4 linked regions of the Homo sapiens genome follow. The protein of the gene in region 2 purifies or fractionates together with the protein of the main gene of each other region. This does not show direct contact. Each region holds a gene or a part of one and is shown on either strand. Other genes may lie near its edges.

What was found.
Region 1: the proteins of CFAP300 (region 2) and TAB1 purify together in Homo sapiens (affinity purification with mass spectrometry, with the first as the bait; one large-scale study listed by BioGRID). This does not show direct contact.
Region 3: the proteins of CFAP300 (region 2) and CCT6B purify together in Homo sapiens (affinity purification with mass spectrometry, with the first as the bait; one large-scale study listed by BioGRID). This does not show direct contact.
Region 4: the proteins of CFAP300 (region 2) and TPM2 purify together in Homo sapiens (affinity purification with mass spectrometry; 2 studies listed by BioGRID and IntAct, with this or other methods). This does not show direct contact.

Annotation. Positions count from the first base shown.
Region 1 is NC_000022.11:39,402,780-39,406,455, reverse strand, and holds part of TAB1 (TGF-beta-activated kinase 1 and MAP3K7-binding protein 1), read right to left. Parts: intron 1-3,676. UniProt on the Homo sapiens protein: Key adapter protein that plays an essential role in JNK and NF-kappa-B activation and proinflammatory cytokines production in response to stimulation with TLRs and cytokines.
Region 2 is NC_000011.10:102,081,579-102,089,794, reverse strand, and holds the end of CFAP300 (cilia- and flagella-associated protein 300), read right to left. Parts: intron 6,725-8,216; coding exon 6,596-6,724; coding exon of another isoform or gene 6,523-6,595; 3' UTR 5,241-6,522; downstream 1-5,240. UniProt on the Homo sapiens protein: Cilium- and flagellum-specific protein that plays a role in axonemal structure organization and motility. May play a role in outer and inner dynein arm assembly.
Region 3 is NC_000017.11:34,953,095-34,961,501, forward strand, and holds the start of CCT6B (T-complex protein 1 subunit zeta-2), read right to left. Parts: upstream 8,367-8,407; 5' UTR 8,300-8,366; coding exon 8,163-8,299; intron 6,557-8,162; coding exon 6,493-6,556; intron 5,601-6,492; coding exon 5,466-5,600; intron 1,506-5,465; coding exon 1,332-1,505; intron 1-1,331. UniProt on the Homo sapiens protein: Component of the chaperonin-containing T-complex (TRiC), a molecular chaperone complex that assists the folding of proteins upon ATP hydrolysis.
Region 4 is NC_000009.12:35,683,703-35,687,349, forward strand, and holds part of TPM2 (tropomyosin beta chain), read right to left. Parts: intron 2,079-3,647; coding exon 1,945-2,078; intron 1,850-1,944; coding exon 1,732-1,849; intron 1,638-1,731; coding exon 1,567-1,637; intron 1,438-1,566; coding exon of another isoform or gene 1,106-1,437; coding exon 1,030-1,105; intron 849-1,029; coding exon 786-848; intron 614-785; coding exon 544-613; intron 1-543. UniProt on the Homo sapiens protein: Binds to actin filaments in muscle and non-muscle cells. Plays a central role, in association with the troponin complex, in the calcium dependent regulation of vertebrate striated muscle contraction.

The sequences.
Region 1 (3,676 bases), on a different chromosome or scaffold from region 2:
CCATCTTCAAGAAACTATCTTTCACTCAAATGATTCCTTTTTTTTTTTTTTTTTTTTTGGTGACAGTCTCACTCTGTCGCCCAGGCTGGAGTGCAGTGGCGCGATCTTGGCTCACTGCAAGCTCTGCCCCTCCAGGTTTAAGCAATTCTCTGCCTCAGCCTCTGGAGTAGCTGGGATTACAGGTGCGTGCCACCATGCCCGGCTAATTTTTTGTATTTTTAGTAGAGACGTGGTTTCACCATCTTGGCCAGGCTGGTCTTGAACTCCTGACCTTGTGATCCACACGCCTTGGCCTCCCAAAGTGGCCCTGTGGCAACCATTGTGCTATAGCCTGGTATTGTTAATTAGATTACCTTATTTCACTGATTTGAAGACCTACATTTTCCACATGTTAACGTCTCTGGAGTTGGTATGTTACAAGTTAATTAGCTGTGAGTTCTCTTTCTGAGCAATAGACAAAACACTGACGTGTCCTTAAAACATTGGTGTCTTAGATCCAATGACACATGGGCAGTTTCTCACGTAATTCGGGCGCTCGCCAGACACTGGTTCACTACAGTGGCCGGAGAACCTCAGGAGGTTCTACCAAGTGGGAGTGAGAGTATCTGGTCTTCTCCGTGTTCCCCAGCGGACTCACGCTGCTGCAGCTGAGTAGGCTTGGATCGTGTTCTCCCGTCCCTTTCCATCTCCATCGAGGATTAGCCATACCGAGCGTCCATTGCTGATTCCATTAAAGCCTACAGGACTGCCAAGTCTCTCGCTTCCTTCCTCCACATTTCTGAACAATTTTCAGAAAGGTCATGTACTTTCTATTCACACAAACCACCCACCCCTCCACCCCTGCACACACTGATGCATACTTTCTCCCACGCCCCCAAATGCCAGGCCTGCCAGCACCAGCCGTGAGCGGCGCTGGAGCGCAGGGAGCAAGAGTCTGCGAGAAGCTGAGAAGGGGGCGTCTCTCACTCAGCACAGCCTCATCGCGGAGCCACTGCAACACACACAACAGCGAACGCAGGACTTAACTCTTCCATGTCTGAGAAATGAACTGCTCATGAGAAATTTCACAAGAATACGTTAAGAAGCCTGTTTCAAAAGACCTAATTTTGATTTGATTTTGTGAAGGAGTTTCCAAAATTAATGTTTCGGTATGAAAAGCTTCTACAGTGATCCAACAGTATTTAACCCAACAAGGCCTTTACAAACACCCTGTGCATGATGTAAGCATTCACTCCTCATGTATATATGTGTCCATGTCACATAATAGTTCACAAAGTACCCACACAGACTCATCTCAAAGTCCTGGGCAGCAGAAATGGACAAAGAATGGTTCCAAGCTCAGGCCACAGCTTGAATACCAAATTATGCTATGAAAAGGCCAAGTGTTTTTGTGGTAAAAGCACCCACATTCCTTAGAAGCAAAAAGGAAGCTCAGAAAGGGAGACTCACAACCCCAGGAAGAGGGCTCGGAGCAGGGGAGCAGCAGACCTTTCTCTCCAAAAAGCTTCCAAGGCCCCAATGCCCCCACCACCTCCAACCTTCCGGATGACCCACTTCTCTGAGACCAGCTCCACTCCTGGCCCCCACTTCTCCCACCGGAGTTTTCATTGAAGGTTCTCCATGTCGTCATCCTAAAGAGCTCCTCATTCATTCTTAAAGGGGCTAATAATCATTGTTGGCACTTCCAATGTGCTAGGGCAGCAGCTGGGTGTATGCAATGGGTATAGGTGGTACCCCCATGGACCTTTTTATTTTAGTGGCTATGTATTTATTTTAACATCCTTTAGATAAATTACACAGATAGCAGCACCTATGATCTCAGATATAATTGCTCAGGACATGTCGAAGTTTAAAAAATTGATTTTAAGCTTACTTTCTTTTTTTTTTTTTAAACAGGTCTTGCTGTGTCACCCAGCCTGGAGTGCAGTGAGGGGATCATAGCCTCACTACAACCTCAAACTTCTGGGCTCAGGCAATCACCCCATTAAGTCTCCTAAGTACTACAGGCACATACCACCATGCCTCACTAATTTTTTTAAAGACTGAATCTCACTATGTTGCCCGAGCTGATCTGGAACTCCTGGCCTCAAGTGATCCTCCTGCCTCAGCCTCCCAAAGGGCTGGGATTCCAGGCATGAGCCACCATGCCTAGCCTGATTTTCTTTTTTATAATTAAGTAACAGTACAGGCAAAATCAAACTCTTGATTCCCCCTGCCCCAGGGTGCCCCTCTTCCAGGGCTCCCTCACCCCGTAAATGGCACCACTGTTGTTTAAACCAAAACCTTAAGAGTCCTTTTTGACTCTTCTTCCTCTGTCACACACCTCACATTCAATCCATCAGCAAATCACATGAGCTCTTCCTCCAAAACACAACTGGAATCTGATACTTCCCACCATTCTTCTGCCATCCCCATGGCCAAGACACCTTCTCGCACCTGGATGACTCTAGGAGTCTCTTAGGAGGTCCCAGGCTTCCACTCTCACCACTCAAACTCAAAAGAGGGATTTTTCGGCCGGGCACGGTGGCTCACGCCTGTAATCCCAGCACTTTGGGAGGCCGAGGCTGGCAGATCACGAGGTCAGGAGATCGAGACCATCCTGGCTAACACGGTGAAACCCCGTCTCTACTAAAAAAAAAAATACAAAAAGTTAGCTGGGTGTGGTGGTGGGTGCCTGTAGTCCCAGCTACTTGGGAGGCTGAGGCAGGAGAATGGCGTGAACCTGGGAGGCGGAGCTTGCAGTGAGCTGAGATTGCGCCACTGCACTCCAGCCTGGGCAACAGAGCGAGACTCCGTCTCAAAAAAAAAAAAAAAAGAGGGATTTTTCTCCAATCAAAAGTCACATCACATCAGGTCCCTACTCAATCTGCTCCCCATGAAAGCTTCACATCACATGAAGAATGGAATCCAGAGGCCACATCAGGACCTGTGAAGCCCAGCATGGCCCCCGGCTCCCTCAGACCTCAGCTACTCCCAAGCTCCCCCAAGGCACTCCACCCAGCTGCACCAGCACCCCTGAGGCTCCTGAAACAGCAGCCTTTGCATCTCCTGCTCCCTTGGGCAGGAATGCTGCCCCCATTTCCCCGTTTTCATCTCATCAAATGTGGAGAAGTCTTCCCTTACCACCCTGTCCAAAATGGCACCCCCAACATTCTGTGTGTGAATCTAGACTGTTCCTCATAGCACCACCTGATGCTGTAGTTTGGATATTACAAAATCACAGATGATCTGTATCTGTTCGGTGCTCACTGTCTGTCCCCTTTACTAGACCATCAGCTCCACAAAGGCGGTGTCTCCTGCACCTGCAGGGTGCCTAGCACATAGTGAGTGCTCAGGGACATTTAAGGGAATGAACAGCATTCACTCACGGCAGCACTGAAGGTAGAAGTTTCTGGTTAGCGGGCAACCAAGCCAGGCTAGTAGTGGAATGTGTCAGTTCCTTTAACACCAACAATACTCCCCAGAGTCCTCTTGGTTTGGAGAAACTAAGGCTCAGGGACATAAAGTGATTTGCCCAAAGCCAGTATGAGACTAACACTGTTTTATCCGGCTGAAAGGTCTGGGTCCTTTTGAACACATCAAGCTCTCCTTAGAACCTCTTTGTGGCCGGGCACAGTGGCTCACACCTGTAATCCTAGCACTTTGGGAGGCCCAGGCAGGCGGATTGCTTGAGGCC
Region 2 (8,216 bases):
GCAGTGGCACCATCTTGGCTCACTGCAAGGTCTGCCTCCCGGGTTCATGCCATTCTCCTACCTCAGCCTCCCAAGTAGCTGGGACCACAGGCGCCCGCCACCACGCCCGGCTAATTTTTTGTATTTTTAGTAGAGATGAGGTTTCACCATGTTAGACAGAATGGTCTCGATCTCCTGACCTTGTGATCCGCCCGCCTCGGCCTCCCAAAGTGCTGGGATTACAGGCGTGAGCCACTGTGCCCGGCCAAGTATACTAACATTTTTGTACGTGGAAAGACACAAACTAAGAATGGAGTCAACAGAGAGAATATGAACTGAGAGAGAAAACGGGTCTTGCATTAAATCAGGCCAAAAAGCAACCCAAACTACTATGGGACTTTTCAGTTATGTGGGCTAATACATTCACTTTTTGCTTAAGACAATTTGGATGAAATTTTCTTTCACTTATAACCCCAAAGATTCTACTGACTTTTAACCTACTTTGAAAGGGTAGTTGAGAAGATTAAATAAAGTAAGACATGTCAAGCACTAACTTTGACTAGAAACAAACATAACAACAGGCTGGGTGTGGTGGCTCACACCTGTAATCCCACACTTTGGGAGGCTGAAGCGGGCAGATCACCTGAGGTCAGGAGTTCAAGACCAGCCTGACCAACATGGTGAAATCCTGTCTCTACTAAAGCTACAAAAATTAGCCAGGCGCAGTGGCAGGCGCCTGTAATCCCAGCTACTTGGGAGGCTGAGGCAAGAGAATCGCTTGAACCCGGGAGGCGGAGGTGGCAGTGAGCTGAGATTGTGCCATTGCACTCCAGACTGGGTGACAGGGCAAGACTCCGTCTTGAAAAAAAAAAAAAAAACCCAATAATACTGTCTTTCTACTTCCAGAACTATAAGCACACCCTTTGACTTACAAGGGATGCTAGTTTGTTCCTGTCATTAATGTCAGACAACGCTGCTAGTATAAAATAGAAATAAATAGGTAATCTGATTTGTTGCCAAATAGTATTTTAACCATTTGGTTAATACAAGGGAGAAAGACAAGGAAATCCCTACAAAACTTTATTTTAGGTTTCTTTGGAAATATACTTCTGCCTGTGGAACAGTTTAATCTTTCTTAACTTTCGCCTTTCTTCAAGGTACCTTTCCCCATTCTTTGTTTCTTCACAAACATTATCTAATAGGACTCCCAGATCTATTTTGAATAATTTCCTGACTACTTCGCGCAGGCATGATTTCTTCTCCTGAAGTTTTTTTGCCATTACGGTCTCTGCTAGGCATCCGATACTCACATGCTGTCTTGTACTATTAGTAATACTAACATGTATGAATGCCTTATGTCTCCAGCAACACCAACTTTCTTGAGTAATTGAGTCTTTCTCTTTCTCACTGCACCTAACACAGTTATGGGCACTAGAATGTAAGCTCCCTAATTTAGAAATTTTTGTTCATTGGTGTATTTGCAGTGCCTCGAAAGTGGCCAGGACATAACAGGTAATCAATAAGCATCTGTGGGGCCGGGCGTAGTGGCTCACACCTGTAATCCCAGCACTTTGGGAGGCCAAGGTGGGCAGATCACTTGAGGTCAAGAGTTCAAGACCAGCCTGGCCAACACTGTGAAACTCCATCTCTACTAAAAATACAAAAATTAGCCAGGCATGGTAGCGCGCGCGTGTAGCCCAGCTACTCGGGAGACTGAATCCCGAGAATGGGTTGAGCTCAGGAGGTGAAGGTTGCAGTGAGCTGAGATCGTGCCACTGCACTCAGGCTTGGGTGATGGAGCGAGATTCCGACTTAAAAAAAAAGCACCTGTGGGATGCATGAGAATGAATGTTAGTTCTTTACAAATTCTTGTTGATTAACTGGATGACTGAGAAGCCTTCAGGGTAGATAGTTTTCCTTAAGAAGCCTCCAGTGAGTTTCTAGAACCTTCAGACCAGTTTTCAAAGTTTTAAGGACGAATGCTGGTTGCAGATGAGTTGGAACAAGGGTGACAGACCTGTGAATCTGAATACAAGGAGAACTCAGGACAAGGGAGCTTCCTTCTCTGACCACAGCTTCCTACCACAGTTCCCACTTCCCAGTTCTTAGTACCTCAAACACCAAAATTTAATAATTCACACAGTCGGCTACCCTTTTTTGGGCCATATTTGATTTTTTTTTTCTATCGAGCATTCTGTTGTCCCATACTTCATGATGCCTTGAGAAGTTATCATTGCTATGAGCTAAGTTCAGTTAATTCTGTGCTTTGACAACTACTATGTACCTCTATTTGATCTTTGGACTTTGGACTTTTTCACCCCAATTTATCACTGCTGGACTAATCTTTCTAGAATATCACTTTCATGATGCTACTACCCCTATTCAAAAGTCCTTAATGATTGCTATACATCACCTACTTAAAAGATTTAAATTTCTTAGCTTTGTGCCCACAGCTCTGTGACCAAGTCCCCAGTAATCTATCTTCCCTGTTATTATCCAGAACTCCAGAACAGAACTTATTAGTTTTAACTACTCAAATGTACTCATGTCCCCCGAAATCACCTTGTGTTTTTGTATCTTTGAATTTATTTTTGCTCATGTGATCTAAATATCCCAACTTCTCTAAGTCCCTCTTTTTAACGTCCAAATTACAATTCTGCAAGACCCCTCTTCTTTAAGTTACTTTTGGAATTTTTTTTTTAAATTTATTATTATTACACTTTAAGTTTTAGGGTACATGTGCACAATGTGCAGGTTAGTTACATATGTATACATGTGCCATGCTGGTGCGCTGCACCCACTAACTCGTCATCTAGCATTAGGTATATCTCCCAATGCTATCCCTCCTCCCTCCCCCGACCCCACAACAGTCCCCAGAGTGTGACGTTCCCCTTCCTGTGTCCATGTGTTCTCATTGTTCAATTCCCACCTATGAGTGAGAATATGTGTTGTTTGGTTTTTTGTTCTTGCGATAGTTTACTGAGAATGATGATTTCCAATTTCATCCATGTCCCTACAAAGGATGTGAACTCATCATTTTTTATGGCTGCATAGTATTCCATGGTGTATATGTGCCACATTTTCTTAATCCAGTCTATCATTGTTGGACATTTGGGTTGGTTCCAAGTCTTTGCTATTGTGAATAATGCCGCAATAAACATACGTGTGCATGTGTCTTTATAGCAGCATGATTTATAGTCCTTTGGGTATATACCCAGTAATGGGATGGCTGGGTCAAATGGTATTTCTAGTTCTAGATACTTTTGGAATTTTTGAAGAATGCTCTCAGAAAGTCTCAGAAAGCCATTCTGTGGTCACTTGTCACCATGGCCAGTTGTCTCACTCCAGACAACCCCTCTTCTCTCACTTGATCACAGTTTGCTTTTACAAAGCCGGCTTCTACAGGCTGCGGCTGCTGCTCTCTAGGGACAATTTTTGCCACAGGCATGTTCCTGGGCTGCATATCTAATCCCATGCTGGGCAGCTAAATCCAGACTACAGTATGAATCCAGACTATAATAGTTTGCAAAATTTAACAAAAGGTTGAAGTATAACTAGAGGGATGACTGTACAGTAAATTTAAGGTGGGCACGTAGGTATGAAGGCTGCTAGAGTCCACCAGCTCAGCCCCTGCAGAGGAGGCTTCCATGCTGATGATCTATAACTCTCAGCACCAACCTTTCCTCCTCCCTCGCTTTCCACAGTCTCCACAGTTGCACTTCAAAGGCCAGTTTCTCTCTACCAACAGTACTTAGTCAGAGAATAGGCATGTATTGTCTTTCAAGTTCTAGGCATTGTGGACACAAAGGTAAACAAAATGGACACAGTACTTGTTTTCATGAAAGATATTAAACAAATTATAACAAATAGCTGCGCAAATAGTTCCAAGTGTACAAATGCTGCCAAAGAAATCCCTGGAGTCCGTGCTCAGGACCTCTACGTTCTCTGGGGCCTCCAAAGAGGAAAAACCAATTTTCCCATCTCTTCAGTCAATTAATAATAATCTATACAAAAGCAATTCTGGCCCCAAGAAGACAGCTTTTTACATTATTATGCAGACAGTTAACTGTTTCTCTTTTTTTTTCTTCATATTTCCTCAGTAGAGAATGCAGCCAAAATTCATGAGCACTTAAACTATGTGCCTGGCATCATTCAAAGACCAACATATGTATTAATTAATACAATTTTCCAAAAAAGGGAACTTATGAGGTAGTCCTATTATTATTATTATTATTATTTATTTTTATTTTATTTTTTGAGATAGAGTCTCGCTCTCTCGCCTAGGCCGGAGTGCAGTGGCGCGATTCAGCTCACTGCAACCTCCGCCTGCCGGGTTCATGCCATTCTCCTGCCTCAGCCTCCTGAGTAGCTGGGACTACAGGCTCCCACCAGTACGCCCAGCTCATTTTTCTTTTTTTTTTTTTTTTTTTTTTTTTTTTGTTATTTTGTTGTAGAGATGGGGTTTCACTGTGTTAGCCAGGATGGTCTCGATCTCCTGGCCTCGTGATCCGCCTGCCTTGGCCTCCCAAAGTGCTGGGATTACAGGCGTTAGCCACCGTGCCCTGCGAGGTAGTCCTATTATTTTTTTCCATTTTATAGAAAAGACAATTAAGGCGCAGAGAGTTAAGTAACCAGCTCAAGGTCACACAGCAAGTAATGGCAAATTAAAAAATCCAGGCAACCTGACAGCCCAGCCCAAACTCTTTATCACTACTCTATTATGCCTTATAATACAGATAATTTGCATAATCACAAATGAGTCATCAAATGATTTTTCCAAAACAATGGAGCAATCTTTCCTCAAAGGTCCTATCTACCTCCACCTTTAGAGCGGAGAAAAAATAGTGGCAATTCCTCAGTATCACTTTCCCATCTTTCGCCTCTGGACTTTCATCCAAGGGCCAAGCCCAGAGTACCTCGCCACATCATGTGCTCCCTTCAACTGCTGTTCTCTTCCATTACTGATATCCCACCAGTCTTTCCATAGAAGCCAGACTAAGCCTATCTTAGTTCAGAGTGATCTCTTCTATCTCTGAATTCATGCAACAATCACTATTGGTAGTCACACTCTTAAAGATTACCTTCCTAAATAGGTTTATAGGGAGTGTATGTTTCCCCAAAGTAAACTGCCCAGTGCCTTGCACAGAATTGGTATTCAAAAAGAATTACTGATTGGCCACTTGATTGATCGAAAGGGTCTCCAGGTCATAGGGAACTGTGAGGTAAGCAGCAAAGCTGGTAGCAAACAGACATTTCAGTTCTTGATTTTATGTTTTTATGTAATTTAAAAAAATCTATGGGTATTATGAGGATATCTAGAAAGTAGTTATTCATTCAATAAACATTTAATATGCCAAGTCATTGTGTTAGGTATTAGAAGTAAAACATACTCTTTCTCCTGAGCTCTATACCCAAATTGCCAGCTGCATTCCAGATTCAAATCCAGGTTCAAGTCCAAGATTATCGTCTTTATCCCACAACACAGAAACACATCTTTCAAACTTGCTCCTCCTCAAACCTCAACATTTCTTACAGGCTTCCCATGACCCATGGGATATATGTCAATGATTTTTGCCATCAAAATAAACCAAAAACAATCTAGGTTATACATTCATTCTATGAATGAAATAAGGAACAGTACTAAGATAACCTGCTTCTCACTCTTTGAACGACTTACTAATGCCATCAGGCAACTTTCTCTGTTTACATGTAGCTCTTGTATTAGCCGTGGGACAGCTGCAGTTTTAATTTATTATGTGATACAAGAGTTTACAACCACTTTCAGAACCTTTTTTTTTTCTGAGACGGAGTCTTGCTCTGTTGCCAGAGCTAGAGTACAGTGGCACAGCCTCGGCTCACTGCAACCTCACTTCCCGGGTTCAAGTGATTCTCTTGCCTCAGCCTCCTGAGTAGCTGGGACTACAGGCACACACCACCACAGCCAGCTAATTTTTGTACTTTTGGTAGAGACGGGGTTTCACCATGTTGGCCAGGATGGTCTCGATCTCTTGACCTCGTGATCCGCCCGCCTTGGCCTCCCAAAGTGCTGAGATTACAGGCGTGAGCCACCGTGCCAGGCCCCAGAACGTTACTTCTTTACTGAGGCTTATAAGTGGAACAAATGAAGCAAAAGAATTGTTATGCTTTGCCTAGCTTTACAGATGTAAACGCTTGTGCAATGAAGAAATGTAATTAAATGAAACAAGTTAAATAAACTAACAATTCATATTAATGATCAGTGGTAGACATGTTTAGTTTTCTGCTACATTTTCAATCCATAATTAATTAGCTTATAAATTAAAATACATGGAAAATTGAGGATTCACTTGAATCACAATGCAACAAATATGAACTAGATTTCTAATTCCTTGTAACTTTCTGTAAAAATTCCACAACTTTTTTGGTATAGATTTTATTATGGATGAAATTTGATCCCCGGTTAGTATTCCACACAAATTTTTAAAAAGGCATCTTGGTGTTTGCTTTCTTCTGCTCTAAGTAGGCTCCTTACATTTTTCTTGAATTAATTTGCAAAGTATATGTTTATCTATAAGTTAGTATTAAGATAGAAAAATGATAAATACAAAATAGTAGAGGTACATAATCTGAAAGAACATTAAGACATGTCTCCCACACCATAACAGTGGTATAAAACATGAAGGTGACGCCTGATAGGATCCACAATAAAGTAAGAAAATGTCTGTTCATGATTCTTTGCTGAAGGATAGCACATACCAGCAGAATCCTGAAAAAGACAAACCTAAATTATTATTATTTTATTTTATTTATGTATTTATATATTTATTATTATTATTTTTTGAGACAGAGTCTTGCTCCGTCGCCCAGGCTGGAGTGCAGTGGCGCGATCTCGGCTCACTGCAACCTCTGCCGCACGGGTTCAAGTGATTCTCCTGCTTCAGCTTCCCGAGTAGCTGGGATTACAGGCATGTGCCACCATGCCCAGCTAATTTTTGTGTTTTTAGTAGAGACAGGGTTTCAGCATCTTAGCCAGGCTAGTCTTGAACTCCTGACTTTGTGATCCACCTGTCTCGGCCTCCCAAAAGGCTGGGATTACAGGCTTGAGACACAGCACCCGGCCAATCCTAAATTAGTTAGTATACAACTACATTTAAGTGATAATCAATATATTTGCCTATTATGTATTTTCTGTCAAAACAGGAAACATGGATAAAATCTTTGACAATAAATTGGCAGTTAATTAATGATTTAAAATATTTATGGACAGCACAGTCTACTATGATAGGAATACATATGTACTATACTTACATGCATAATTTTTGTCTTTAAGGAATTTATAGTCCAAAGACAAATCCCATCATTTTAAAAAAAGTGCTTTTAAAGTGCTAATATTGCAACAATTTTATATTTAGCAATTTTCTATCTTTGTTTTCTCTTTTTTTTTTTAAATTTTTTTTGGAGTTGGAGTCTTACTCTTTTGCCCAGTCTGGAGTACAGTATTGGTACCACCACAGCTCACTGCAACTTTTGCTTCCTGGGTTCAAGCAATTCTCATACCTCAGGCTCCCAAGTAGCTGGGATTACAGGCGTCTCCCACCACACCCGGCTAATTTTTTGTATTTTTTGTAGAGATGGGGTTTTACCATGTTGGCCAGGCTGGTTTTGAACTCCCGACCTCAAGTGATCTGCCCTCTCAAAGTGCTGGGATTACAGGCATGAGCCACTGCACGGGGTGGGGACTATGTTTCTTTTGTTTATCACTGTGACTTAGCCCAGTACAATAGCTGATACACAGTATATATTTAATAAATACTTGTTAAGTGATTGAATGAAGATACTTAGAAACTGCTTCGAATGTAATAATATCTTTTGTATAATACTGAAATTCAAGTACCAGATTCTATGTATAAAGACACATTTATGGCATTCTTTTTTTTTTTTTTTTTTAGATGGAGTCTCGCTCTGTTGCCCAGTCTGGAGTGCAGTGGCATGATCTCGGCTCACTGCAACCTCCGCCTCCCAGGTTCAAGCAATTCTCCTGCCTCAGCCTCCCCAAAGCTGGGACTACAGGCGCGTGCCACCATGCCCGGCTAATTTTTTGTATTTTTAGTAGAGACGGGGTTTCACAGTGTTAGCCAGGATGGTCTCGATCTCCTGAGCTCGTGATCTGCCTGCCTCGGCCCCCTAAAATGGGATTACAGGCGTGAGCCACCGGGCCCGGCGACATTTGTGGCATTCTTATTTATCTGCCCTATAAA
Region 3 (8,407 bases), on a different chromosome or scaffold from region 2:
TACATTTGGCATTTGTAGTTCTCAAAGTAAATTATTAAGGTAGTATTCTGCTTTGTATGTCAATGTCTTGTGAATTTGTTTCCTAAGAATTTATCATTCTTCCTGGTAAACAAATATATTCAAGTTTCAGAAATTACAAAGCTGAAAAACAATAATGATATCAAATCATTGCCACCTGATAAAAGCCTTCCCAAAATATCCAGCCAATCTTGTCTTTATATAAAATATATATATATATATATATATATTTTTTTGAGACAAAGTTTCACTCTGTCACCCAGGCTAGAGTGCAATGGCATGATGTCAGCTCACTGCAACCTCCCCCTCCCTCCCAGAGTGATTCTCCTGCCTTAGCCTCCCAAGTAGCTGGGATTACAGGTGCCTGCTAACATGCCCAGCTAATTTTTGTATTTTGAGTACAGACAGGATTTCACCATGTTGGCCAGGCTGGTCTCAAACTCCTGACCTCAGGTCGTCTCCCCACCTCGGCCTCCTAAAGTGCTGGGATTACAAGCATGAGCCACCATGCCCAGCCTATATAACATATATTCTACCTTTAGAAATAAACAAAACACTGGCCAGATGTGGTGACTTCATGCCTGTAATCCCAGCACTTTGGAAGCCCGAGGTGGGTGTATCATTTGAGGTCAGGAGTTCAAGACAAGCTTTGGTAACATAGTGAGACCCCATCTCTACTAAAAATACAGAAATTAGCCAGGCGTGGTGGCACGCGCCTGTAATCCCAGCTACTCGGGAGGCTGATGTAGGAGAATCGTTTGAACCTGGGAGACGGGGGTTGCAGTGAGCTGAGATCATGACACTGCACTCCAGCCTGAGTGACAGAGTAAGACTCTGTCTCAAATAAATTAATAAAAGAAATAAACTAAACAAACATACATTTCCAATATGTGAATATTAATATATTAATATATCATATCACATTTCATTATATTGGTAACCTTATCTACAAGGTACACTGCTAAAACAACTATCTTGTGTGTCACCTCACATAATAAAATATGGACTGCTAGATTTAAAAAGACCAGTATACTATTCAAGAGCTTCCACAGGAGATGATCTGCAGGCAGCCAAACCTCTCCCACCTTTCAAGTCACGTTTAAAAAAAGGCCTAGTATGATACTTCTGAAAATTACAAATACTGTTCTGACCAGTCAAATCTAATCTACAGTTAGGCCTATACAATAATTGTCTGTCTTCCATATTTTATGCCCAAAAAACCACATGAAATACTTGATTATCTTACAGAAAAAGAAAAATATCACCATGCATTAGGCTATATTTGTTCTGAATGCAAAAGTTTAATAACATACCTCTGTTAAGACATCAGCCAGTTCAGCATGAACTTTAGTTTGTAATGATGTTCTAGCTACATCTAAGAGGATTTTTCTTTTCATCTCCTTTGTCACTTTAACTTCCTCCAAAACTTCAAGTGCTTTTATCTTTGCAGCTTCAAATCCTTCAGCTATTATTCTAGGGTGCAGGCCCTGTTACATCAACATAAAATTATAAATTATAAAATAAGTCACCCAATGTAAAAGTAACCAACCTGTCTGATTATTATGTTCAAAAAAAGTTACTCACATTAATGCCATGAAATATAAGTGTACATAATTTATAAAAGTCATTTTAGTGCTTCATACTTGAAATAATCTCAACCTTAACAGTAAGGCTTCAAGTCTAGTATTAAAAATTACAGAAGTCCTTTTTATTTCCAAAAATTATGACTACATTGTTGTTATGTGGTGCCCTTCTGAATGGGCACACATAAAAAGATTCCTTTCAATGCAGAGGAAAAGAACCACCACTGAATTGGGGAAAAGTGGCAGATAGAACACTGTGGTGTCTACCACTTCACCAAGTGATCAAAGTTAACATCACAATAATGAGACAGACAGGCATCACATGCCTGCTGACATGATGCATTCAGTAGAACACAACAGTTCTATGGTATTTTGGCCAACAATCTGTAACCTAAGTTTAATTGAGGAAATAGGCAAATCCACACTGAGGGACTTTCTACAAAATAAATGGCTTAAAAGTAGCAATATCATGAAGCATAAAAGGCAGCTCAGGAACTAGTCTAGCTTAAAGGATACTAAAGGAACACGACAACTGAGTGCAATGCATGAACTTAGATCTTTTTTTTCTATAAAGAGCACTATTAATATAAGTGGTGAAGTTTGAATAGAATGCAGATTAGATAACAGTAATGTATCAATGTGTTAATGTTATTATTAATTTCCTGGTTTTTATAACTATACTGCAATTATATAATTCCCTGGTTTTAAGAAATATACACTGAAATATTTAGATCATGTCTGCAACATACAGTTTAGAAAAGAATAAGTACACTGATACTAAGGAAGAGAACAGGGCAAGCAGGCAATGAGAGAAATGAAAATGCTTGAAGAATCTGGGTAAAAAGTATACAGGAATTCTTTGTAGTATGTTTGCAACTTTTCTATAGGTCTAAAATTATGAAAAAATATTTTAATAGTATTTTTTGTTCCATAAAATAATACACAAACTTTGTGAAAGCTAGCACTTGGTCTAATTCATTCCCTTACTACTTTTCTTTACATCAATCCTTAATAATCTTTAAAAGTTGACATTGAGTATTTGTGCTGGACATGACTAAGAGTTTTACACAAGTTATTTAATTCTCTAGCCACATCATGAAGTGGGTATTATTATTATTATTTTTCCTATTTCACAGATGAGAAGACCGAGGCTTAAAGGGATAATGTAATTTGCCTTAGATCACCAAGATAATAAGAAGTGAAACCAGGTTGTTTAAACCCATGAGACCTGACTTTAGAGCCTATGTTATTAACCATTTTCAAAAATGTCTTCAAGCTAGGACCCCACAATCTCTCATCCAGACTATCATGAAAACCTCTGGTCTAGACTCCCTTAAAACCATCCCCCAAATACTTAAAATGCCAACCTGACCATATCAGTCATTAGTATGTTTCTATGTTTGGTCTGTAATACCACTGGATGAAATCTAAGCTTCTTGGTTAGCATACTACATGCCCTCTGATCTGGCTCCCACTTCCCTCTCCAGCCTCTTCTCCACTACTGTTCACATCACCTGAAATTCCAGCAACACCAAAATGCTTGTAGCTTCATACAACACCATGTTGCTTGTCTTCTCTGTGACTTTGCTTATGTTGTTCCTTCTGCCTGGAAAGCCATTCTCCTCACCCCTTGCTCTTTTGTCTGGTTCACTCCTCCTCATCCTGAAGATTTAGGCCAGGCCTTACTTCCTCCAGAGAGTTCTTCCTGACTACTTCAGGCTAGTTTAGGACGTCCCTCCAGCCTCAGTGATTCCATCATATACTGTGCCCGGCTCTATCACTGCACCACCACAGAGTTTCATAATGTCTGTTAGCATCTCACCCTTGCCAAACTCCTTTCTTCCTAACCCAACCCTAATTCAGTTTGGGTTTCCCTCTCCCACTTGTGCTTTGGAGAAAGCTGATCTTATCCCCAGCTCAAGGAGTGGATCCTGATTAGTCTAAGTCAATTCCCATAAAAACTGTTACTGGCTTGGGATGGACATAATACTAAAGTTGGCCCAATCATACTAAAGAAAAGCCTCCTGAATGGCTTTATCTTGCCCTCTGCCTAATTTCCTCTGACAGTCTTTCTTCGCTCTCCTCTGTCCTCTCTCTCCTCTCTCCTCTCTTCTCTCTCTCTCTTTCTTTTAGAGACTGGGTCTCACTCTGTCACCCAGGCTGGAGTACACTGGTGCAATCATGGCTTACTGCGGCCTCCACCTCCTGGGTTCAGGCAATCCTCCTGCCTCAGCCTCCCAAGTAGCCAGGACCACATGCAGCATGCCACCAAGCCTAATTTTTTTTTATTATTTCTAAAGACAGGGTCTCACTATGTTGCCCAGGCTGGTCTCAAATTCCTGGGCTCAAGTGATCCTCCTGCCTCAGCCTCCCAAAGTGCTGGGATTACAAGCATGAGCCACTGTGCCCAGCCAGTCTTACTTTCTTTTTCTTTCCTTTTTCTTTCCATTTTTTTTTTTTTTTTTTGAGATGGAGTTTCACTCTTGTTGCCCAGGCTAGAGTATGATGGCACAATCTTGGCTCACTGCAATCTCCACCTCCTGGGTTCAAGCAATTCTCCTGCCTCAGCCTCCTGAGTAGCTGGGATCACAGGCGTGCACCAACACGCCTGGCTAATTTTGTATTTTTAGCAGAGACAGGGTTTCTCCACGTTGGTCAGGCTGGTCTCGAACTCCCGACCTCAGGTGATCCACCTGCCTCGGCCTCCCAAAGTGCTGGGATTACAGGTGTGAGCCACCGCACCTGGCCTCTTACTTTCAAGATGGAAATACTCTTAGGATGAAACAGCACTGTGAGTGGAAGAGGTAAGAGACAAAGAACCTGTGTACTTGATGACTGAATTTTGTTATCACACAACCTGACAGTCTCCCTTATCTCTCAATTTTCTATTATGGGAGATAATCATTTCCTTATTGTTCAAGTGAGTTTTAGTCAAGTTGTTTACAGCCAAAAGCATCCTAAGTTGCAAGTACTGAATTAATAGAAAATTCCCAATACTAAACGAAACACAGAGAATCATTTTGACTAGGTTACTCTTTGCTGAAATGGTCCCTGAAAGAGAGAAAACATTCAGATATGGAGAAAAGAGATACTTAATTAGAGAAAGGTAAAAATGTACATGATGTTTTCAGAGGCCAGTGAACGGAGGAGTCTGGCTGAAGTAGATGATTTATAAAGAAAATGAAACTAGAAAGGAAGGTAAATTCACAATAAGTAAAACCTTCAATAATTTTTCTCCAGTGGTTTTATAAAGGTGCATAATTTGGTTTCAACTTTATCTATGGTGTTTTCTTTCTTAATTACCCATGGATACATGGGTAATTTTTTACTTTTTTAGGTCCGTTAAATATTTCATTTTTAAAAGAGGTATATAATTCCAACGAAAGGCATTATTTTGGCCAACAAAGTTCATTATTATTTCCATTTATAATTGTCCAAGAATATCTTAATTAAAATTAACTGTCTAGACCAGGCACGGTGGCTCATGCCTGTAATCCCAGCACTCTGGGAGGCCCAGGCAGGTGGATCACCTGAGGTCAGGAGCTCAAGACCAGGCTGGCCATGATGGTGAAACCCTGTCTCTAAAAAAAATACAAACATTAGCCAGGCATGATGGCGCATGCCTGTAATCCCAGCTACTCGGGAAGCTGAAGCAGGAGAATTGATTGAACCTGGGAGGCGGAGGTTGCAGTGAGCCAAGATTCTGCCACTGCACTCCAGCCTGGGCGACACAGTGAGACTCCATCTCAAAATTAATTAATTAATTAATTAAAACAAAATTAACTGTCTAAAACTCAACCATTTTACTAGTTAAAAAAATAATTTGCCATTCAAAATAACATATAAACTGTGAAATTCTAATACCTCAGAAATGTACAGGTCAGCTTGTTTTAATAACTCTCCAATAATTAGAACATTTGAAGTAGTACCATCTCCTGTGACGTCATCCTGAGCTGTTGCTACTTTTGCTATCAAGGAAGCTGTTGGATGTTGAATTTGCTGGAAAAAGCAAGCAACAGATTTAAAAAGACAGGATGAGATAAGGAAGTAGGTCACCAAAAGCAAGATAACCTAGGGGTCAGTAGCAAAATTAAAAAATGAAATAAGCTTCATTCTACAAGTTTACAAGTTTTGTATTATCAATACCTAAATGTCAAGTCCAAAATTTTAAAAGTGACAGGTAATGAGGCCTGAACATTTCATAAAAGTCTTTGCTTCAGAATGCAATGACATTTCTAAAATAAGATTAAATCATTCAATCTCAAAATGAATACATGTATTAAACTTGCAAAGGATATTTTTATTTTTCCATAATTACAAAGAACATAAGGCAGTGCCCTTAAAAGATATTATTGATTTATAAGTATGCCTAAGTATACAAAGTATGTATAAGTATACAAAGACTTGGAAACAGCCAAAAAAAAAAACTTTTTTTTTTTTTTTTTTTGAGACAGGGTTTCACTCTGCCACTCAGGCTGGAGTGCAATGGCACAATCTCATTCACTGCAGCCTTGGCCTCCTGGGCTCAAGTGATCCTCTCACCTCAGCCTCCAGAGTAGCTGGGACTATAGGCGTATGTCACCACACTGAGCAAAATTTTTTTTTTTTTTTTTTTTTGTAGAGACGGTTTTCACCATGTTGCCCAGCCTGGTCTTGAACTCCTGGGCTCAAGCAATTTGGCCACCTCAGCCTCCCAAAGTGTTGGGATTACAGGAGTGAGCTACCACACCCGGCCAAAAAAATTTTTTTATTGAGGTCTAATTCAACAGTCTTCAGCATATCTCAAGACTGCAGTATTTAGCTCACAGCCTTGGCTTAAAGATACACAAGTTCTACTATGCTTCTAATTAAGGCTTATTAAGGTTTATTAAAGTCAGCAGCATCAGCTCACCATCTCATCGAGCAGCACATTGCCATCTTTGGTGAGTTTGATGTCACCTGCACCAGAAACAAGCCTGTTCAGAGAAGAATGATATTAACTTCATGTGGTAGGAAGACATTCCCAGTGCTTGCCACTCCATTATCCTTAATAGAGGGAACTGGGCTCGGAAAACTTCCACTGTACCATGGGAATATGCCATGGTAATTACCACCATTTGCAGCTCACAGAATCATTTCTCCCCAGATGGACAGATTATGGAGATTTCATTCCAAATGGACTATTTACAGGTTTAAAGATAAAAGCACTTGATGAGTTACGAACTGTGGTTTGGTCAAAGAATACTTGGAAGTCTACAAAGCACAAATTCGCAAATTTCCTGCAGGTTTTAATTTTGGTGAATGTTTTCATTCATTCAGTCACTCAACTTAGTTTCCCTCATCCCTGCATTTATTAGATCACCAAGTTCTATCAATTCTACTACCTAAATATCTCTTGAATCTGCCACCTTCTCTCCATCTCCACTGTTATCATCTCTACTTTGGATGGCATCCGGATATCTCCAAACTTAAATATACCCTCCACACATTTTTCTTTCTAAAAGGCAACGTGATTCAGTCAGTTCCCTGATCAAAAGTCCTCCAATGATTTTTATGTTTTCCATCATTTTCAAGTTAAAATCCAAACACAGCAATGACATACTTGACCTTTCCCAATATCTTCCCTGCCTCATCTACTTTTCCACAAGCAAATCTTCTGGTTCCCTTAATATACCATGTTTTGTTTCGTTTCTGTTGGATTTGCACCATTGGTCTTTCTTATTCCTGAAATTACTTTGCCCAGGCCTTTACTCCCTCTTCCAACTAGTGAAGTCTTATTCTTCTTTCAAGACTGATCAAACATGTTACTTAAGATGCTTTTCCTTCTGCCATCAGTCCCTTTCTTCAGCATAATTATATGCATCTATATATAATTAGCACATCCTACTCTACCACATCCGTCTCTACCACATCTCCTTAAGAACAGAAACCGTTATCTTGATCATTTCTGTGTCCCAACAACTGGTACCTAAGTGACTTATTTTACCATTAATATTATTTTGTTCATTACTATGAGGATGTGTCTCTCCTCTTATACCCTTTTGCCCTCACTGGTCTCTTTTCCTCACTCTTGTCTATAGAAAAGGGTGCTTAATATATACTGAAAAGATGAATAGATCTGAACAACCATAGACACGGGGTATTCAAGTAGAACTTGGATTTGACCCCATGCCTTCCTGGCTCCAAAGCCTGTGTCCTCTCCACTACAATACATTGCCATACAAAAAACAAAACTACTTGTTGAATTTATGGACCAAGGGTATACAGTCTTAAGGAGCAGAGGAGTTAAATGCTTTGTTTCCAATGAGACACTAAATTAACTGACTTTCTAACTGCATATGAACCTTGACGACAAGTCGGGGGTCGGGGAAGCGCCACAGCTTCACTCCCGGGGCCCTCTACTAGGGGAGGCTTTTCTCCTCCACCTGCACCAGGCGAGAAATACCCCCAGAGCAGGGATGAGAATGAGGGAAATCAAGCTCGCAAGAACATCCACAGCGCTACGCGGACGCCTGCCTCAGAGGGCGACAGGACACCAACGGGCCCCTAGCCGCGTAATGGCCGCTCCAACCGCTGTCTCACATTTTCATGGTGCCTTTAGGACCCAAGTTGGTCCGCAGCACATCCTGCAGCCCTCGGGCGGCGCATATATTGACAGCCAAAGCTGCCCGGGCCCGCGCCACCTCAGCCTTGGAGTTGACGGCCTTTATCGCAGCCATAGCCTAACCGTTCAGAGGGAGAAAAAAAAAAAGCCTTAGTCGCGATTCTGAGCAAAAACGGCAATGCGACGCCACGCTCTCTTGAGCCTCGGCCAATCATCGCCCTTA
Region 4 (3,647 bases), on a different chromosome or scaffold from region 2:
AGAAATAGCCACAGACTCACAAATATCTGGATGTTTGCTTTTGTCAAATCTAGCTTAAAATAGTGTTTTCTATTAGTGCTGTCATGCAGACCTAGATGTTCAGTCCAACAGCTCTCTAGTTAATAAGCCAGTCTCTGCACTAGAACTCTACTGCGTTACACTCGGGGACGGAATTGTCTATAAGGGTGCCACTCAGAGTGTGGCATGAGGACCAGCAGCATTGGCAGTACCAGAGAACTAGCTAGAAATGTAAATCCTCCAGCCCAAAGTCAGCAATCTCTTTGGGGCAGAGTCAAGGAATCTGTTTTTAAAACTCTCCCAGTGATTCTCATGCATGCTGAAGTTTGAGAAGCACTGGAGTTGTTGCGCCGTGGGCAGCTACAATTACTTGAATTGTAGACATGGCCCACAGAGTTGGGGAGTTGGTAGGGTCCTAGGTGGCCCAACCCTAGTTTATTGGTGGCAAATAAAATGGGATGAGAAGGTACAGGACAGACTGATAATCACGGCAGGTGTGGACCTACTTATAAAGGCTTCTTTTACCTTCTAGGTCATCGATGGTTTTCTCCAACTTTGCCACAGACCTCTCGGCAAACTCTGCTCGGGTCTCAGCCTGGGGGTAAAGGCAGGATGGGAGAAATGGCAAAGAATTAGGCCCTCCCACAGACTACTGCCTAAGTCAAGCTTCTTGTCCATCCCAACCCTCAAGTGTCCTGCCACAGGCCGTCTCTGGCAAGGATTAGGGTGGCTTGAGGGGAGACTGGGAACTGGAAGAGGACTCTCACCTCCTTCAGCTTCTCCTCCAACAGTTTGATCTCCTCTTCATATTTATCTTCTTTGGTGGAATACTTTTGGGGACACACACACGCCATCAGTACAGCGCTACCACAGATCCTTCATTTCTCCATTGTACCCCGTAGGCTCCTGGTCATCTTGCCTCCGTTGAACACCCAGCCCCTCCCTGCCTTGGGCCCCTCACCTCCCTCCCCTGTGGGACCCCATCCTCACTGCCCCTCTGCTCCCCTCTACCTTGTCCGCCTGGGCCTCCAGGGATTTCAAGTTGTTGGTAACAATTTTCAGCTCCTCCTCTAGGTCCCCACATTTACTGCAGGGGGTGTGTGGCGGGGGGGGCAGGGTGTGAGGGCACAGCGAAGCCAGACAGTGGAGATGGCACAGCAGGGGACGGGTGGAGGAGAGAAGAGAAGAGCAAAGTTGTGAGAGTGACAGCAGGCAGGGCTCAGAAGCCCCAGGCCCTTCCTGATCCCCAGCAGCTGAGAAAGAGCAGCCTGCGGTGCTGAGACGGAGGGAAGGTGAGCTGAGAGAAGGCGCCATTGCCCAGAAAGGTTCAGAGGGGTCACTACCTCCTCCTCTGAGGCCATCAGGGACTTGAGGGCCTGGTCCATGGTTCGAAGTTCCTCCTCCAGCTGTCTGGCTCGGCTGGGGGCAGCGGGCAGGGGTCAGAGAACAGGGCCTGTCCCTACAGCCCCAAGCCTAGGATGCTACCTTCCCACTGTGTGGAAGGCCCCAGGGCCAATGGGCTCACTTGTCACCCCCGGGTATCTTTACCTCTCGGCCACCTCAGCCCTCTCCTCCGAGCGCTCCAGCTCTCCTTCCAGGATCACCAGCTTCCTGGCCACCTGTGGGGAGTGAGAAAGAGAGGGTAGATCAGTGGAGAAGGACTGGGCATGTTGCAGGCTGGGCAGCGAGCAGGCAGAGGGGCAAGGCTGTCACCTCTTCATATTTGCGGTCTGAATCCTCAGCGATGTGCTTGGCCTCCTTCAGCTGCATCTCCTGCAGTTCCATCTTCTCCTCATCCTTCATGGCCCGGTTTTCGATGACCTTCATTCCTCTGAAAGGCAGGGAGAGGGTGAGCGTAGGGTCAGGACCAGCAGAGACAGGCTCCCTTCTCCCTCCCGGACCATCCTCCCCGAGGCCCCTGACCACCTCTCGCTCTCATCAGCCGCCTTCTCGGCCTCCTCCAGCTTCTGCAGGGCTGTAGCCAGGCGCTCCTGGGCCCGGTCCAGCTCCTCCTCAACCAGCTGAATGCGGCGGTTCAGGGAGGCCACATCTGCCTCAGCCTGTGGGTCAGAGGTCAGGGGTCAAAAAGGCCTTGTTAGCCTTGGATAAGGATCAGAGAGGCTCCAGAGGATGGCGAGATTCTTCTCAGAAAGAACTGAGGCTTCCTGGTTTCTAGACATTCTATGTGATTTTTCCCCAACCAATCATCTTCTGCCCAGACTGTGCTCCAGTAAAAAATGTGCATTCAGGCCGGGCATGGTGGCTCACGCCTGTAATCCCCGCACTCTGGGAGGCCGAGGCGGGTGGATCACCTGAGGTGAGGAGTTTGAGAGCAGCCTGGCCAACATGGTGAAACTCTGTCTCTATTAAAAATAAAAAATTAGCCAGGCATGGTGGCGCATGCCTGTAATCCCAGCTACTTGGGAGGCTGAGGCACAAGAATCACTTGAACCCAGGAGGCGGAGGTTGCAGTGAGCTGAGGTCGTGCCACTGCACTCCAGCCTGGGTAAAAAGAACGAAACTCCATCTCAAAAAAACAAAAAAATACATGCATTCCTTGCTTGACAAGCTCCGCTCCCCTGCTGCAGGGCCTCTCCTGCACTGTGCACAGTTAGTCTCCCAAAGGTCACCTGCACACAAGTCCTCCTGTTCCCTGTGGGAGCACTTCAAGTGCTGGGGCCAGGTCTGATGCAGCTCTGATTCCTACACAGCAAAGCCTGGCCCAGGTAAGGGGATGGGAGGAGAATCAGGCCAACCAGACATCACTGCTGCTAAGAATAGCCCGTCACAGAATCAAGCTCAGTGATACTGGGCATGGTGGTGCATGCCTGTCATCCCAGCTACTCCGAAGGCTAAGGCGGGAGTTCAGCTTGACCCCAGGAGCCCTGCCTGGGAAACATAGCAAGATCCCATCTCAAAAAAAAAAAAAAAAAAAAGTATCAAGTTCAGTGATGTCATCTGTCATCAGCTGTAAGGCAGACTCCCAGCAAGAAGCCCAAGAGGCAGGCCTATAAGGAATACCCATGGCTGTAGCAAGGGGCTCCCTGCCAAGGCCAGCAGAGAGCTGGGGGCAATGCAGGGGCAGTGTGAGGGATGTCTACTCAGCCCCTGGGCTTGCAGTAGGAGGCAAAACCATGGAGGTTTTGGAAAAAATCCATAAAAACTGGTCAAACACTGAGAAAAAGGGCAGAGCAAGGCGAGCGCCAGTAAAGGAAAATGAGAGGAGCAGGGCAGCCACGTGTTAAGAGCATCGGCTCTGAGTCAGATTGTCTTTGAGCCACGGCTCAGCCACTCAACACCTGTGTAACTGTGGGCAACTTATTTAGCCTCTCTAAGCTTCAGTTTCCTCCTTCACAAGTTGGAGTTAACAATAACAGTTCCTCCTTCTTAAGGCTGTTCTGAGATAATCCACTGCTTTTAATACTCAGTTAATCAACAGGACCTTCGGTGAGACTCATAAAACTAAACAGGTTCTCTTACTCCATGCTAGATCCACTGAATTGGGATGTGTAGGGCGGGGGCTTGGGAATCTTCTCTTTTTTTTTTAAAGCCCCCGAGTGATTCTGATGATAAGCCAAGTTTGGGAAATTGTAAAATAACATGCAGAAAGCACTGAGTACATTGCCTGC